Regions from separate parts of the Homo sapiens genome. Here region 1 is linked to region 2. The links come from fine-mapping of genetic effects on gene expression. Tissue or cell type: whole blood. Region 2 holds a variant in brackets; the other region holds the start of a gene. All regions are shown on one strand. Distances are from middle to middle.

Evidence for each region. PIP is the estimated chance that this variant, and not a neighbour inherited with it, causes the effect.
Region 1: it holds the start of AMOTL1, and the variant in region 2 is fine-mapped to the expression of AMOTL1 in whole blood (TOPMed, PIP 0.91).

What each region holds. Positions count from the first base shown.
Region 1 is chr11:94,763,259-94,771,357 of GRCh38, forward strand. AMOTL1 (angiomotin like 1) reads left to right here and starts at 5,098. Exons shown (of 13, transcript NM_130847.3): 1 at 5,098-5,302. The coding sequence starts at 5,254.
Region 2 is chr11:94,635,856-94,643,959 of GRCh38, forward strand. The region is part of intron 4 of PIWIL4-AS1 (PIWIL4 antisense RNA 1); the gene reads right to left. It overlaps LINC02700 (long intergenic non-protein coding RNA 2700), which reads left to right and starts at 2,188. Exons shown (of 6, transcript NR_187352.1): 1 at 2,188-2,498. RefSeq lists an enhancer at 4,160-4,659. The variant G/A (reference allele first, on the strand shown) is at 4,402.

The sequences.
Region 1 (8,099 bases), 130 kb after region 2:
TCATCCCCTTGCCCTTTCCTCTCCTTACGACAATGTACACTCAGTACTCTCTGCTTTAGACACTGCCAGTATTCCCTGAATTATGCTCCTGCCAACAGTTTGCAGGGCAGGGCATGTGTCAGAATCTTCAGAGGAGGCATGTGCTGTGTGAAAAAGCTTATTTGAGAATATTATTTTATATTTAGAAAAAGGCAGGAAAAAACACACTAGAGTTGACCCTTGAACAATGCAGGAGTCACGGGCGCTGACCCCCTCACACAGTTGAAAATCCAAATATAACTTCTGACTCCCCAAAAACTTAACTGCTAATAGCCTACTGTTGACTGGAAGCCTTACCGATAATATAAACAGTTGATTAACACATATTTCATATGTTATATGTATTAATACTGTATTCTTACAATAAATAATAAGCTATAGAAAAGAAAATGTTATTAAGAAAATCACAAGGCAGAGATGATCATCATAAAAGTCTTCATCCTTGTCATCTTCACATTGAGTAGGCTGAGGAGGAGGAAGAAGGGGGTGGGTTGGGCTTGCTGGTTCAGGGTGGCAGAGGTGGAGGAAGATCTGTGTGTAAGTTGACCTGCACTGTTCAAACCTGTGTTGTGCAAGGGTCTGCTGTATTGCCATTGTAAAACAGAGAACTGAAAGAAAAGGTTGGAAAAAAACTTCTCACCTGGTGATTATATAGGGGTTTATTAACTCTGGGGTTGATGTGACCATTTGATGTTTATAAAAAGAAGAAATTAAAAGAAAAGGTGTTTAGAAGCATGGCAGCGTATGCTTTCCTTCCTTGTGTCCATGCCTTTGCTCGAAATATCCTCCTCTCAGCACCTGGATTTCTTGGAACTTGCCCGTTTTTTTCCTGTGCATCATTCCTCTATGCTCCCATAATGCTTTGTGTCTAATCTCTAGTGTGTTCACCATCATTTTTTATCTTTAGCATACTACACTCTGATGTAGTAAATACTTCTGAAAGTGAATTGCAGGAGCACTGACTAACCCCAGTGAGCCAGCTGGAAACCTCAATGTGCTAGGAGTCATTTCGAGTGGATTCTAGGACTGCACCTTTAGAGATTCAGAAATTTGGAGGTGGAACATGAGGAGTTTAAATTTTTACATGCTTTGGTTTCATAAGTTACACTTCAGAAAGTGCTTGAAATTGAACTTAAAAAATATCCTTACTTGTTCTAGGAGCAAAACAAGCATTTTGATCAAAGCAGCCTGGGTGCATCAAATCATTGGTTTGTTCATTCAACAGTCATTAATGGAGAACTACCAGTTGTAGCGATGGTCCCAGGTGAGGCTGTGTGTAGTAGCTGTTCCTTACGTAGTCATGTTCATCCACTCTTCTTTTGCTGTTTGGCTTCTCTGTCTTTGCAAGCCCAAGCCCATTCTTAGGGCCCATTCAGTGAAAGTATTAGCTGGTAAAGACTTTAAATGTTTGTCAAGAAGGGGTGCTGAGAAAAGTGAGAGGAGAAAGACATTTGCATTTTAATAGAGTATTTAAATTCCTTGGTATTTCAAATTACTGGAGAAGAGGAGGGTTTCTAACTTTTACTGAATTCCTAGATGTGCCCAGCACTTGACCTGTATTATCTCATTTAACCCTTGCAATAAGTTTATGAGGCAAATGTTATTATTTTATAGAGGAGGAAGCTGAGGCTCTCCGTGTCTAGAAATAGATAGAACATGGACTAGAAGCAGGTCTTACTGTAAAGGCCCTGCTCATTCTCCTCTATCCAGATGCCTCTGTTACTTCAACATTCTTCCCGCCTCTATGCTTGTTGGGAACAGCTTGGTATCACTGGAACATCCTGGTACTCGTCCTGTTTTGAGTGAAAGACTGCTCTCTGGGCTGCCCCAAAGAGCACTAAAATTGGCCCATCATCTTCTTAGCTTTCTTAGGAATGAGTAAATGACAACTTGGGTCACTTTAGAAAGGATGCTGACCTTTAGGATGAGTGCATAGATCTAAAGAAGGCACAGATGTGGACTGGTTCACTACCTTGCTGTTAGTGAAGGTGTGTTCAATTTTTATTGTAAACATACTTTGTTTCCATTAGACACAAACCAGACATCAGAATCTCCAGCCAAGTGTGCTTACTGAAAGATGTTATTGATAACTTCTTGCTAGTGAAATTCAGAGTCTTTTTTTGCAGGCCTTAGTTCCTGAACAATAGATTCAGGAACTAAGTTAAGGCCTGAAAAGATTGTTTTCTGCATTTGATGTAGAGCTTATTCACAGATAAGGAAATTAAGGCACAGGAGGGAAACATTGGTCTCCAGCAGTGTTTTCTGCCTGTGCTTCCATGTATCTGATTACTGGGTATTAATTTGAGGAGTCTAGGCTAGGTCCACCTGATTGAATCAGAAGATCCTTGAACCCACAAGCTGTGCCTAGCACTTCATTGCAGGTCTAAGAATCTGTAGCATTTGATAGAAGGACCCACTTCTTAAAACTTCCTCTGGCTTCCATGCCTTTACCTTTTCCCAGCTCTTCTACTTCTCCAGATTCTTCCTCTTCTCCCTCCTTCTTTCCCTGTTTTCCAGTTGTGGACATTCTGTTAATGAACTGATCTTCAAAGCTTCATCTCTCCTTTTCTCTACACCTCTGTCCTCCACTTCTCACCCAGTCCCTTGTTCCTTGTTTCCTCTTGCCCAGAGGATAGTAAGTCACTCAGCATCTTTCTCAAACCGTTTCCTCTTCTCAACTGTGCTTCATCTGTCATTGGTCTAATGATCCATTCTTCTAAGACTGCAAGATCTATTCTTCCTATGACTGGGCTCAAAGCCTAGGTTAACTTGATTACTTTGTCCTTTTCCCCAGGATAAACAACGAGTCAATGAGAAGAATAAAATCTTGCTTCAAAGATTTGATACCTTTCTTTATGACATCTGGTATCTCCAAAGATATGGTATCTCTCATTTCCTTTTTATCACCTCTGTCAACCTCACCTATCATTGCTTCCTGCAACTATCCTAGATAGTCTCTTGAAATAATAATAGCAAATGTATATTGAATACTACATGCATTGTGCTGAGTATTTTACATTTGTTATTTTATTCAGTCTTCACAACCACTCTGTGAGATGCTATTTTCTTCATCTTGCCAAAAAGGATACTGAGGTTTAGAGAAGTTAGGCAACTTGCTCAGCGTCACACAGATACTGAATGGTGGAGCTGCAACTCAGCTCATGCCTGTTTTGTTCTAAACTTGATGGTTGTAACTTGGAAATTTTGCTGCTTCCTAGACTATAGGATGGTATCTAGGAGTGGGCAATTAGTAAAGATTAGTTTCCTTTCTTCTTTTTCTATCCATCACTTCTTCCCCAATTTGTATTAAATTCGCGCAAATGTTAGGTGAATCAGTGGTCCCTTCACTGTCCATAAGATAACCACTTCAGCTCCTAATTTGCGATTCAGGGTTCACAATGTGTAATACAAGGCACATTGAGGCAGAGGTTGTTTCTATACCTGGCTTTGCTACTAAACTTGTTCTGTAACATTGGACAAGTCATTCAACAGCTATGCCTGAGCTTCTTCATCCGGCAAGTGAAAGGTTTAGTTGACACTTTCTTAGATTCTTTCCAGGCCTACATTTTTGTGACGTTGTTATTCTGCCTTCCCTTGTTTTCTCCTCGTTTCTGGTAAAAACGCTTTCCTCTATGCCTTCTTCCCAAGCACCCAGACCTTGTCATCTCCCTCTTGGCTTTTGCCTCTGCTTGCCCAGTGCTGCCTTTTCCTCTTTCTGCTGTGTCTGAACTCCACCACCCTCCCAGGCTTTTCCTTCTGTGTAGTCAGTGCCTCTCTCCGCCCTTCCCAGGCATCTGCAGTACTTGGATCTCCTGCTTTGTTGCTTGCCTGTTTTCTGTTCACACATCTTGTCTTCTTAGACAGATAACAGATCCTTGAAGGGCTGGTCAGCTGCTCTAAGTTTCTTTTGTGTGCTAAGTTTCTTTTGTGTGTACCAGGGTAGATGACTTTAAATGGAGTAGGCATTTCATAAATAATTGTTAAATGATTACATTTGGGCTTTATCTTGAGAGCAGAGTTTACTCAGTAGGAGGGCCCATCAGGGGAATCAGAATCAGGACATGCAACCCACCAGAACTGATGAGAGGTAAAACTGCTGGCAGTCTAGTTAGGGAACTGCCACAATCCAGGGAGGAGTCCCTGAAGGCCGGACCTAGATAGCAGGTAAACAGAGGCAGGGAGCACCAGATAAGAGAGGCTTGGTGTGCGCTAACTCTCCCACTAACATCCTGGGCAGCAACTGTACAGTTACCTAGCTTTCTCTTCTCCAAGCAGTAGAGCTGCCCGGAAAAAGCCAGGCAGAAGTGCTATGGGGCAGGCTCGGGCACCCCAGATTAGGGCTCCAGAGAGCCGCCAGTATAAACCAATATAATGAGGTGGATGAGTAGTTCTCAGCACAGCCTGATTTTAAGAGGTGGGGCAACATTTTCCCAGAGTCGCTTACTTTCTTTACCTCTACTCAGGCAGATAACAGCCTGGGGATTTATGGCCAGAGGATGTACGGTTCTGCGAACACATTTAATATCCGAGGCTGTCAGGTCTGTTTTGGCCCTTCTGTTTGTCAACGGAGCACATAGTAGCAGCTTATCGCCCAATCTCAAGTGCGTGATGGAAGCACTGGGGCCTGGGGAATGCTGAGAAAAGTGTGGCCACTTTCTACCTGGAAATTCCACTTAAGAAGAAAAAAAACCAACCTAAGCAAATCTAGACTTTTGGGCAGATCCGGAAACAGAATTTTGGCCGGCATTGGGCTGGTGGGGAAGGAAGACAAAGTGGAGGGAGAACTGGTGAGTCTGAAATTAATCAAAACCCGGCAGGGGACAAAGGAAGGGATGCTGTCGCCCTCCTAAGTCTCAGGGAGACACGTCAGCTTGAGCTCTGGGCAATTTCAGCCTGGCAGTCTCGCGGCCCGGGGAGGGGCGGCGGGTGTCTGCAGACGGGCTCTAGGGCCCAGCGGCCGGGCGCCACGGCGGGGGTGGAGTGTAGGGTTCTAGTGACGAGCCCGGGCGACCCTCCCCGGCCCGCGCGCGGGGAGCGGGGAGCGCGGACGGCGGCGGGAGCGCGCGAGAAGCTCTAGGACCCAGCAGCGGTTGTCGGGTTTGGGGCTGGAGGTGAAGCCCTGTGTGAATGGGGTTGATTGTCCGGCGCCACTTCCCCGCGCTGCCCGGCAGCCGTCTTCCCCAGCCGAGGGACTGAACTAGCCATGATCGCCTCATGTGGAGGGCAAAGTTGCGCCGGGGAACTTGTGAGCCTGCGGTGAAAGGTAACCAGCCCCCACTCGAGGTGCCGGGAGGGCGTCTCCGAGTCTCCCACGCGAAGAACCCAGTCGCCCCGGGCTCCCCGGGCCCCTGCTGCTCACGGAAGGGGGCAGCTTCTGGGGGCCCGGGGCTGAGATCCCAGATTGTTGTTTTTAAGCGGGTTCCCTTGCCCCGCTCCAGGTCCAGTTGCCTGCGGGCCGGGCCTCAGCGTCTTGCCGCCCCGCGACCCACGTTGACTGAAGTTGTGGCCCCGGGGTTTGGGCCCCGGGGTGCTGCGCGCCCGACGCGGGGCTGGCCTTTCCTGAGGGGCGCAGCCATATGGCCAGACACTCCGAGGCGCGCCCGCGCCCGCGCGCGGGTCTCGCGGCGAGGGAGGGGACGGAAGGGGGTGTCCGGTGCAGCTTTCCCCGGCGCGAGACAAAGGCGCGCGCACCGGCCCGCCCGACGGGCTCTGGCGCTGTGGACTGGACCCTTTCTGCCCGCCGGCCAGACCCGGCTCTGGCGGGTGGGGGCGACGAAAGGGTCGCACCCCAGCCCCAGACGCTCGGATCGCGTTAGCTGCTGCTCCTTCTTTGTTCTCTCCCCAGACAAGTTTCTTTGACAAACTGGAGAGTTACATCCAGCTCCCGCTTGCCTGTTAGGGCTGCCTTTACAATAATCTGCTTTCGCGGGGAGAAAATTTAAACTTTCCAAATGGAACTGTTTTTTCTTGGAATGTGACATTTGTGGCAGGAGGGAGAGTGGTACGTTGGCCGATGACAGCCGAGCGGAACGGTGGCCTAGTGCCGGGACAGGGACCGAGCGTGCCCCATAGGCGGCCGGGCTGGAGGACGCGGCGGCAGAGCAGACGAGCCCTGGCGCGCACCTCTAGGGCCTCCGCTACCTGGACTGCGCTCGCGGCGACGTGTCCAAGTTTCCCCCCTCAGAGCCCCAGGCCGAGAATCCCGGGTATCTGCGCAAAGCTCCCGCGCCTCGCCCACCCTACTCTTCCTATCTTTACTGATGACTAGGAAGACTTTCCTTTTCCATTTTTGTTCGAAGATTTTTGCCTTTTTGGCTTCGGTGTTGGTTTCCTGTCTCCGCGTGGCAAATACCTTTTGGCCGGGCTAGCGTGTGGATCACCTGGACTGGGGTTTCAGAGGTGGGCCCTGAGCGTGCGGCCTCCTGAGACGATGCGGTTTGGACCCAACATTTTGTCCCCATGGTCCCTCAGCTCCCTTTCTCTGTGAGGCCTTGGTTTCCCATTTTCTTCTCCTGAGGCATGTTATGAGAACTGAGTTTTTGTACTGCTTATAGAAGGCCTTGGTGGTGGTGGGGTACGTGGTCTCGAGAGCCAGTTGTGATACCTCGAAGATGCTTTCGGCTAACCAAAGCAGTAACGTGCTAACCTGCTCACCATAAACGAATTAAACCAGAATAGAGGGCTATTAATAGCTACAGTTCCAGAAAATTTCCTTCCTTTTCGGGAAGCAAAAAGTCAAGGCTTGAAATATTAAACAATCATGGCTCCCTGCTTCCAAAACTGGCCTATGGGTCACTGCCAAACTGGCTAAGATTTCCCCTGGCTGCATACCACTCCTGGGCCCGGGCAGCTGTGGAAGTCAGACCCAGGTTAACGATTAAGGAGCTCTCTAGATTGCAAGGTCTTAAAGAATCTAGAGCAACTGACATTTACTTCCTAGTAAGGTGCTCTGAGCCTTATAGTGTGTATCTACTTTGAAGGCTCTTTATGAGAATAATGTGGGAACAGTAGTTTAATATACTTTGAACTGTTAGTAAAGGGTGGAAAAGCACTGATTTGACTAGAATGAAGGAAAACACCGATTCGACCAGAATGAAAAGGGTAGGACATAGGTAGAAGGCTTTATACAGGCTCTACTTTTCCTTATGATGGTGGTGGGGGTTGGGGGGAGGGATGAGGATGTTTAGTTCTTGGAGTGCACTTTTGTTTTTCTGTGATGCATTTTTCAAGATAAATAAGGAAACCTTTGTAAACCTGCAGGTGGATAGGAGAGAAGGTGCTGTACCTGTAACGCCCCTTTCCCTCCCCCTTCTTTTTAAAATGCACAGAAGTCTTGGTCTTTCAGGTTCTTTGCAGATGATGGAGGATGTAGCATACTAATTTTCCAAAGGGCATGTGGAGATCAAAGCATTTAAAAATACATCTTTTCACGGAGGCTAATGGAGGATTTTCAGTTTAAATGAGATTTTAAAGTGCTGTCGTTAAGAAAAACACATGAATGCAGAAATGTGAGTGATTTTATGGGAAAGCACTCCGCTGATCAGACTTGAGAGTGTCTGCCCTGGGCCAGTTAGTCTAGAGGCTGTTGTGGGTAGAGCTCAGCTTTTCTGATGTCTACCCCTAAGGAAAAGTGTGGACCCAGGGCCTAGGGAAAAGATGGCTGAACTAATTGAAATGAGCAGTCTGGCTGGTGAGAGTTCTGTTGAAAGGTATAGCCTCTAGGTATCAGTGCTGCATTTCTTCATAGTAATTTGTGAAAATGCTTTGAAAATGATAAAACAAAGACTTTTGAAAAAAATAATTAATGACATGAAATGGGAATTGCTAGTGAAAATTGTAAAAGTTTGATTTTTCAGGCCAATAAATTAAAAAGAAGTAACTTTATAGGACCTGCTAATATTTCTGATATATAAAATTCCCCCAAAGTAACCTTTTCTATTTTCTTTTCTTTTTGGCGGGGTTGGGGGGGGGGTGCGGTGTGTGGCTATCTGCATTTTAAATGCATAAGGAAGCTCAGGTCAGAAAATTCTGCAGTGTTTTGAATAATTTTTCTCCTATTT
Region 2 (8,104 bases):
CTGTCACAGCCAAGATAGGCCTAAGGAGACATGGTAATTAAATATAATATATCTTGGATCCGATCTTGGAATAGAAAAAGAGCAATGAATAATAATTAAGGAAATCTGAATGAGGTATGGATTTTTGATAACAGTAACATATAAATATTAGTACATTAACTGTTACAAAGGCAGTGTACTAATATAAGACAATAATAGGGAAAACTGGGTGTAGGGTATATGTGAACACTTTGTCCTATCTTGGCAACTTTTCTTTAAATCTAAAATTATTGTAAGATAAAAAAGTATGTAAAAAACGGAATAGGTATAGTATTCTTCCAGTTTCGTGTGAGTGTGTGTGAGTGTACACAAAAAGACAAGCAGAATATTTATCAAAAATATCAATGATTAGGTCTACATGGTGGAAGTATGGGTAGCTTTCCTTTCTCTTTCATTCTTTTATTTTTCAAATTCCTGCCTTCTAATATAAGTCAAATGTGATATACTGATAGTTTTAGCTATCAGAAACATTATCAAGACCTTGGCACCGTTTCTATCAGCACATGGTAATTATGGGCCCCATTCTCCTAACACTCACTTCCTATATTTGCCCGGGATGCTTGCTAAAACTGAGTTCTATACTAAGAATTTCCAGGGAAGAAACTTGAGAATTTATTTTTTAACAAGTCCCTAGGTGATTTTTGTGTGTGTTTGTGTCTGGTGGCTGTTCAGATAAGTTTAGGAAACTGACTCAGCTAATTCTCACTTAAAGCTCAGCTCAGTGTCAGCTCTGCTGTCAAAACTTCTCTGTCCATCTCAGGCACTTAGAATCTCCCTTCCCTGTATCCTCCCTGTACCACACACACAACTCCATTCCTGCCCTTCTAACAGTGCAGCATAGTTTTTTCTACATTTTTCTCTCTGGCTGTTTTGCATATCTTTGTGATCTCATCGAACAATAGCATCTGGTAGGCCCTCAATATCCATTATTTAGATAAATGCATGGAAGCTTAGATAGTCAGATGGGCTGCTTTTAAATAAATGGGGTGATTCTAAGAATTTCATCAGCATCTATCTTCAAGCCCCTCAATAATGGCATCCCTGGTTGCTTTACAATAGGTGGGATCAGCCTCTTTTATTATCTCTTTAGAAGGAAGCATGGGAATATTCAATTTATTCCAAAATATATTGCTTTACGCTTGGATAATGGTCAGAAAAACTGGAAGTATGAATATATATTTGAATCATCTGGGAATCTATTGAAACCCAAACTTGCATTTGATGAGTAGTGCTTACCCTGGGCCAGGCCACTCAGTGCTTGAGCTGTGCTATCTAAGATGGAGGCTCTAATCACATGTGGCCTTTGAAGGCTACATTTAAAGTAATTGAAATCAATCCAGTTCCTCAGTCATACATTTCAAGTACTCAAAGGCCACACGTAGCAGCCACTGTATTGGAAAGTGAAGACATAGAACATTTCCATCATCACAGAAAGTTCTATAGGAGAGTGCTGACCTAGATGATTCCTCTTTATACTTCGAATCAGATAGTTCTCTTATTTAAGGCTTCCCTCATCCCTCCAAGCCATATTCTGTTTGGTTCGCAGTGACAGAAATGTCCTGGGCACCAGGGATTCAGAGATGAAGAAAATGTCATTGCTGCCCTGGAACAGCTTAAAGCAGGGACTCTCAACTGGGGCGATTTTGCTGCCTAGGGGACATTTGGCAGAGACTTTGTATTGCCATTAATAGTGTGGGGGGTATGTGTGTGTCTGTGTTCATGTGTGTGTTGTGTGTGTCTGTGTCATATGTGTGTATGTGTGTGTGTGTATTACTGGCAGACAGAGGGCAGCGATCCTGGGTAGAGGGCAGAGATGATGCTAAGCATTCTACAACGCACAAGACGGCTCCCCCTCCCTACCATCAAAAATTTGGCCCAAAATGTCAATAATGCCAAAGCTGAGAAACCCTGGCTTGAAGCCTTGTTGGGGAGAGAGACACAGGAGCACAAAGTACCAATGTCATGTGGAAAGTGAGCAGAGAGTGGTAGAGCACAGCCGTCGGACTGGGAGGATTCCCAAGCTGAGTCTGGAAGGAGCTGCATGCCTAGTCATTCCTTCTATGATCTAATAATGCTTTGCCCATTCCCCTCTGCAACACCTAACACTGTGATGTATTTTAACCATCAGTTTACACATACTTCTCTCCTGTGAGACTGTGAATTCTTCAAAAGCAGGTACTGTGTTTAATGAAGTGTGCCCAGGACTTTGCTCAGTGACTGGATGACACAGTAGGAGTAACAAGAAAGTTCACATGGGTGAACCGTGGTAGGTGGACATCGTCTCTCTCACCTCTTCCCAAATCAAGGATGAAGTACATCTTCATAAATCCTCATGTGAATTATTTTGCTACCTCTAGAAGCATTTTCTAAAACAAGGTGCAGCAATCAGTTGAGTGAATTTGTCACCAGAGCTTATGTTTTCTGAAAGAACCCTATCCTCAGGCAGTTGTTCCTAAGAGGTGAGTTGTGGATTTAGTTCACATACCTTCCTTCGTGGCTTAAAATGCTCCACATGCCTGTCTCCCCAACAGCATCAGATCACCATGCAGTAAAATACCAAGTCAGAACAGCCAATGCTGAAAAGAGTGACAGTTTCCTTTCATGATGCAATGCACTTGGAGCCAGGGGACAGGGAGACAATAACTGCAAGGAGAAGTGATGACAACCCTACTTTAATATAGTAGTTCCTTTTGAATTTTATAGACTTACCCGTTAATCTCTAGAATTTTGAAAAAATTCCTTAAGTGATGTGAGCAAATAACACTTTGCCTTGGGTTAGCCTTTTCCTTTCCCTTGAAGATTCCACAAATATGTCAGCGCTGGAAATGATCCTTTGGCTTTGAACTATGTGAAGACTGCAGAAGGACTGGTTGGTAAGCACCCACATCCTGGGGTGAGAATCACATCCAGTTTATACCTCCCTGTGCACACTTGTATAAAACAACTATAAGACACACGAGAGATCTGGAAGCCAGTTCCTCATAAGTAAGAATTGGTAAGAGCTCTTAAGCAGCATGTCTGAGGTTTAATAACTCGCCCTGTCTGGAGCCTTTTGTGTGTCTCACTTTCTTCTTAGCAAAACATGAGCATTACACTCTGTGCTGGAAGATTCCCTTCCTTCTTCCGGGCTTTTGATTACCCAATCCTTCTTTACTTTCACTTCTTGCTCAAAGCAGCTCTTTCTCAGCCATTTCTAAAAAAGGTTTATGAGATGCTGCAGGGCTGTGTCTCTAAATTGGGCCCTGTGTGCCTATATCCTCATTCTCTGCAGCTGCTGAATTCTTTCTGTGGGATCAGCCTTCTTCTAAGTGCTGGGGTGATGGGAACATAGCTGTAAACTGATTTTGACAGGAAGCATCACTTCCGGCTGGAAACAAGTCCCTGGTTTATGCAGCACATAGTACTAACTGTGGAACACTGTTAAACATGTCTCATTCCGCCCCCTCCACCAGCAAAAGGCCTTGCTGCTCAGTTGTGCACCAGATGATGTGGCATATGCACATACTGGCCACTAATGACAAAGCCTGACACCATGCAGTGGACATCTCTTGGGACCTCAGCCTCTTTCTCCTGGAACTGACCCCATCCTCCCTTCGCTACATGATCACCATGGGTGGATTCCCAGCAGCCATGCTTGTAACATGCATCCTGTCCTCTCTGGCCACAGACAACTACAATACAGATGAGCAGCCCACCCAAGATTCCTTCTCTAAGAATTTAGAACTGGGAATGGAGGAGAGAAAGAGAGAGATACTGATTCTACCAGAGACAATGGGATGAGATAGCATGGTTGTTGGAACCATGGCTGGAACTGTAAAGCACAAATTGGACAGCAGATAAAGTTGGTTCACAGAGAGAGAGAGAATGATGAAGCCATAGGGATCCAAGTTTCCCTATGGCTTTCCTCACCCTAACTCCTGTCCTTCCACAGGTCAGGCTGCATTTGTATCCTGGGTCCACAAGACATCGTTTCCTTAAAACCAATCCCCCTGATTTTGCTAAGGTGAGTCGGAACAAGTTGATTTCTGTTACACACACAAACACACACCCCACATGAGACAGCCAGGTAGGAAGTGCTCCCTGGCAGAGCCTCCCTGACCTGCACACTGGGAGGAATGCACGCTGGGGTGGAGCCTTGGGAGGTTCGCGTGGTTTGCAGTGGGGAGGAGCCTGCCGCCCTCTTCCTGGGTGGAACCTGGGATTCAGTTCGCCAGGCAGGAAGTGCAGTAGCAGGACTCTGGCTTTCCGGAGAGTCTCTGTTTTTCCTTTTTTTTTTTCCCTTTTCGCCCAATAAATACCATTTTTCTCACCCTTCAAAGTGTCTGCAAGCCTAATATTTCATGGATGTTTGACAAGGACCCC[G/A]TCTTTAGCTGAACTAAGGAGAAAGTCCTGCAACACACACATGGAGCTCAGCAAACGGAGGATGTAGTAGGTAGAATTTTTAAATGGCCTCTATGATTTCTTTGCCTGGTATCCACATCTTTGTGTCATCCTCTCCCCTTCAGTTGTGGGAGGGATGTATAACTTGCTTCTGAAAAGTAGAATATAGTAAAGGTGAAGAAATCCTGCAGTTGAGGTGAAGTTAATGAAAAGGGAGATAATCCTGGGTGGGCCTGACCTAATCAGGTGAGTTCCTGGAGAATGTCAAGTAAGAAGCCTAGAGTCAGAGACTCACTCTTTCCTGTTAGCCTTGAAGAGGCAAGATGCTTCAGTTCTACAGCTGCAAGGAAATCAATTCTGACAACAACCACGTGTGCTTGGAAGACCACCACCACCATCACCACCACCACCACCCCCCGCCCCGCCCCTGCCCCTCTGAGCCTCAGATGGGACGCTAGACCCTCCCTGATTATAGTCTGCGAGACACTGAACCTGGACTCCTGGTCTATGGGAGCTGTTTTAAGTTTTAAGCTGTTAATTTTTGGTAATTAGTTATGCAGCAAATGGCTGTGTTGTTATTCCCATCCCCCTCTTCCCACCTGTCTCCTTTAAATAAAAACCAGCATTTCAGGTCTGAACTGTCATGACTCCAATCTGCTTGTCAAGATGGACTCTAAGTAGAGTCAGGTGAAGAGGCCAGGTTAGCTATATTCCTTCTTATTTTCCATCCTTCAGTCATGGCCTGAGCCTTTTCCTTCCCTGAAATCTAATGAGAATCACTCCTCAGCTGATTATCATGGACTCGATGGCTTGTCATTAAGAATACCTCAGCCACAGGCAGCAGTGAGAAGAGAAGTGAAGGAGGAGGGGTGTTTAGGAAATGCCTGGTCCTGAGGGCGGAAGCAGTTTTGAAGTTGCACCTGCTCTGACAGAAAACTCGAGTGTAAGACTTACTGATGTCATTCTCCTCAGTTCTTCATGGACGTAGGACTGTCATGGGGAAATTAGGCAAAGATTCTGCTTTGGCAGGAAGAACTATGGCTCCCTGCCCACATCCCTTCGTTCAGCTCCCTCCCCCATTGGCCAGAATACACCAAGTTGTCAGCACCAGCCGGCCCGTGGCTATTCAGAATGTCTCTGGAAACCATGAAGGCTAGGAGGCATGAGATCTGGGTGCTGGGGCTGGTGAGTCCTCTAGTAACCAACCCAACTGTAAAGAAGTAATAATATATGGCATCTGCATAATGGTCTACGGCTTCCAACTTGCTTTAAGCTCTATTTATCCTTTGGGTCTCTCATCAGCCCTGGAAGAAAAGCAGTTGTCTTTGTCAGGCCTCTGAGCCCAAGCTGAGCCATCATGTCCCCTGTGACCTGCACGTACACATCCAGATGGTGGGTTCCTGCCTTAACTGATGACATTCCACCACAAAAAAAGTGAAAATGGCCTGTTCCTGCCTTAACTGATGACATTGTCTTGTGAAATTCCTTCTCCTGGCTCATCCTGGCTCAAAAGCTCCCCCACTGAGTACCTTGTGACCCCCACTCCTGCCCGCCAGAGAACAACCCCCTTTGACTGTAATTTTCCTTTACCTACCCAAATCTTATAAAACGGCCCCACCCCTATCTGCCTTTGCTGACTCTCTTTTCGGACTCAGCCCGCGTGCACCCAGGTGATTAAAAGCTTTATTGCTCACACAAAGCCTGTTTGGTGGTCTCTTTACACAGACGCACATGAAATTTGGTGCTGTGACTCGGATTGGGGGACCTCCCTTGGGAGATCAATCCCCTGTCCTCCTGTTCTTTGCTCCATGGGAAAGATCCACCTACGACCTCAGGTCCTCAGACCGACCAGCCCAAGGAACATCTCACCAATTTTAAATCGGGTAAGCGGCCTCTTCTTACTCTCTTCTCCAAGCTCTCTCACTGTCCCTCAACCACTTTCTCCTTTCCACTCTTCAATCTTTCCCTTCTCTTAATTTCAATTCCTTTCATTTTCTGGTAGAGACGAAGGAGACACGTTTTATCTGTGGACCCAAAACTCCGGTGTCGGTCACGGACTAGGGAAGGCAGCCTTCCCTTGGTGTTTAATCATTGCAGGGATGCCTGATTATTCACCCAAGTTTCAGAGGTGTCAGACCATGCAGGGACGCCTGTCTTGGTCCTTCACCCTTAGCAGCAAGTCCCGCTTTTCTGGGGAAGGGGCAATACCCCAACCCCTTCTCTCCATGTCTCTACCCCTTCTTCACCTTTCTGGGGGGCAAGAAACCCCCAACCCCTTCTCCTTCACCCTTAGCGGCAAGTCCCGCTTTTCTAGGGGAGAGGCAAATACCCCAACCCCTTATATCTCTGCGCCCCATCCCTTATTTCCCCACCCCAACCCCTTATATCTCTGTGCCCCGATCCCTTATTTCCATGCCCCAACCTCTTATATCTCTGCACCCCAATCCCTTATTTCCGCGCCCCAACCTCTTATATCTCTGCACCTTTGTGCCCCAACCCCTTCTCTGCTTTTCTGGAGGGCAAGAACTCCCCACCCCTTCTCCGTGTCTCTACTGTTTTCTCTGGGCTTGCCTCCTTTACTATGGGCAAGCTTCCACCTTCCATTCCTCCTTCTTCTCCCTTAGCCTGTGTTCTTAAGAACTTAAAACCTCTTCAACTCTCACCTGACCTAAAATCTAAGCATCTTATTTTCTTCTGCAATGCCGCTTGACCCCAATACAAACTCGACAGTAGTTCCAAATAGCCAGAAAATGGCACTTTCAATTTTTCCATCCTACAAGATCTAAATAATTCTTGTCATAAAATGGGCAAATGGTCTGAGGTGCCTGACATCCAGGCATTCTTTTACACGTCGGTCCCTCTCTAGTCTCTGTTCCCAATGCAACTCATCCCAAATCTTCCTTCTTTCCCTCCCACCTGTCCCCTCAGTCCCAACCCCAAGCGTCACTGAGTCTTTCTAATCTTCCTTTTCTACAGACCCATCTGACCTCTCCCCTCCTCCCCAGGCTGCTCCTCGCCAGGCCGAGCTAGATCCCAATTCTTCCTCAGCCTCCGCTCCTCCACCCTATAATCCTTTTATCACCTCCCCTCCTCACACCCGCTCTGGCTTAGTTGGTCTGGCTTAGTTTCATTCCGTGACTAGCCCTCCCCTACCTGCCCAGCAATTTGCTCTTAAAAAGGTGACTAGAGCTAAAGGCATAGTCAAGGTTTAATGCTCCTTTTTCTTTATCCCAAATCAGATAACATTTAGGCTCTTTTTCATCAAATATAAAAAACCCAGCCCAGTTCATGGCTCGTTCGGCAGCAACCCTGAGACGCTTTACAGCCCTACACCCTAAAAGGTCAAAAGGCCGTCCTATTCTCAATATACATTTTATTACCCAATCTGCTCCCGACATTAAATAAAACTCCAAAAATTAAATTCTGGCCCTCAAACCCCACACCAGGATTTAATTAACCTCGCCTTCAAGGTGTACAACAATAGAAAAAAGTTGCAATTCCTTGTCTCCACTGTGAGACAAACCCCAGCCACATCTCCAGCACACAAGAACTTCCAAACGCCTGAACCGCAGCGGCCAGGCGTTCCTCCAGAACCTCCTCCCCAGGAGCTCGCTACAAGTGCCAGAAATCTGACCACCAAGCCAAGGAATGCCTGCAGCCCAGGATTCCTCCTAAGCCGTGTCCC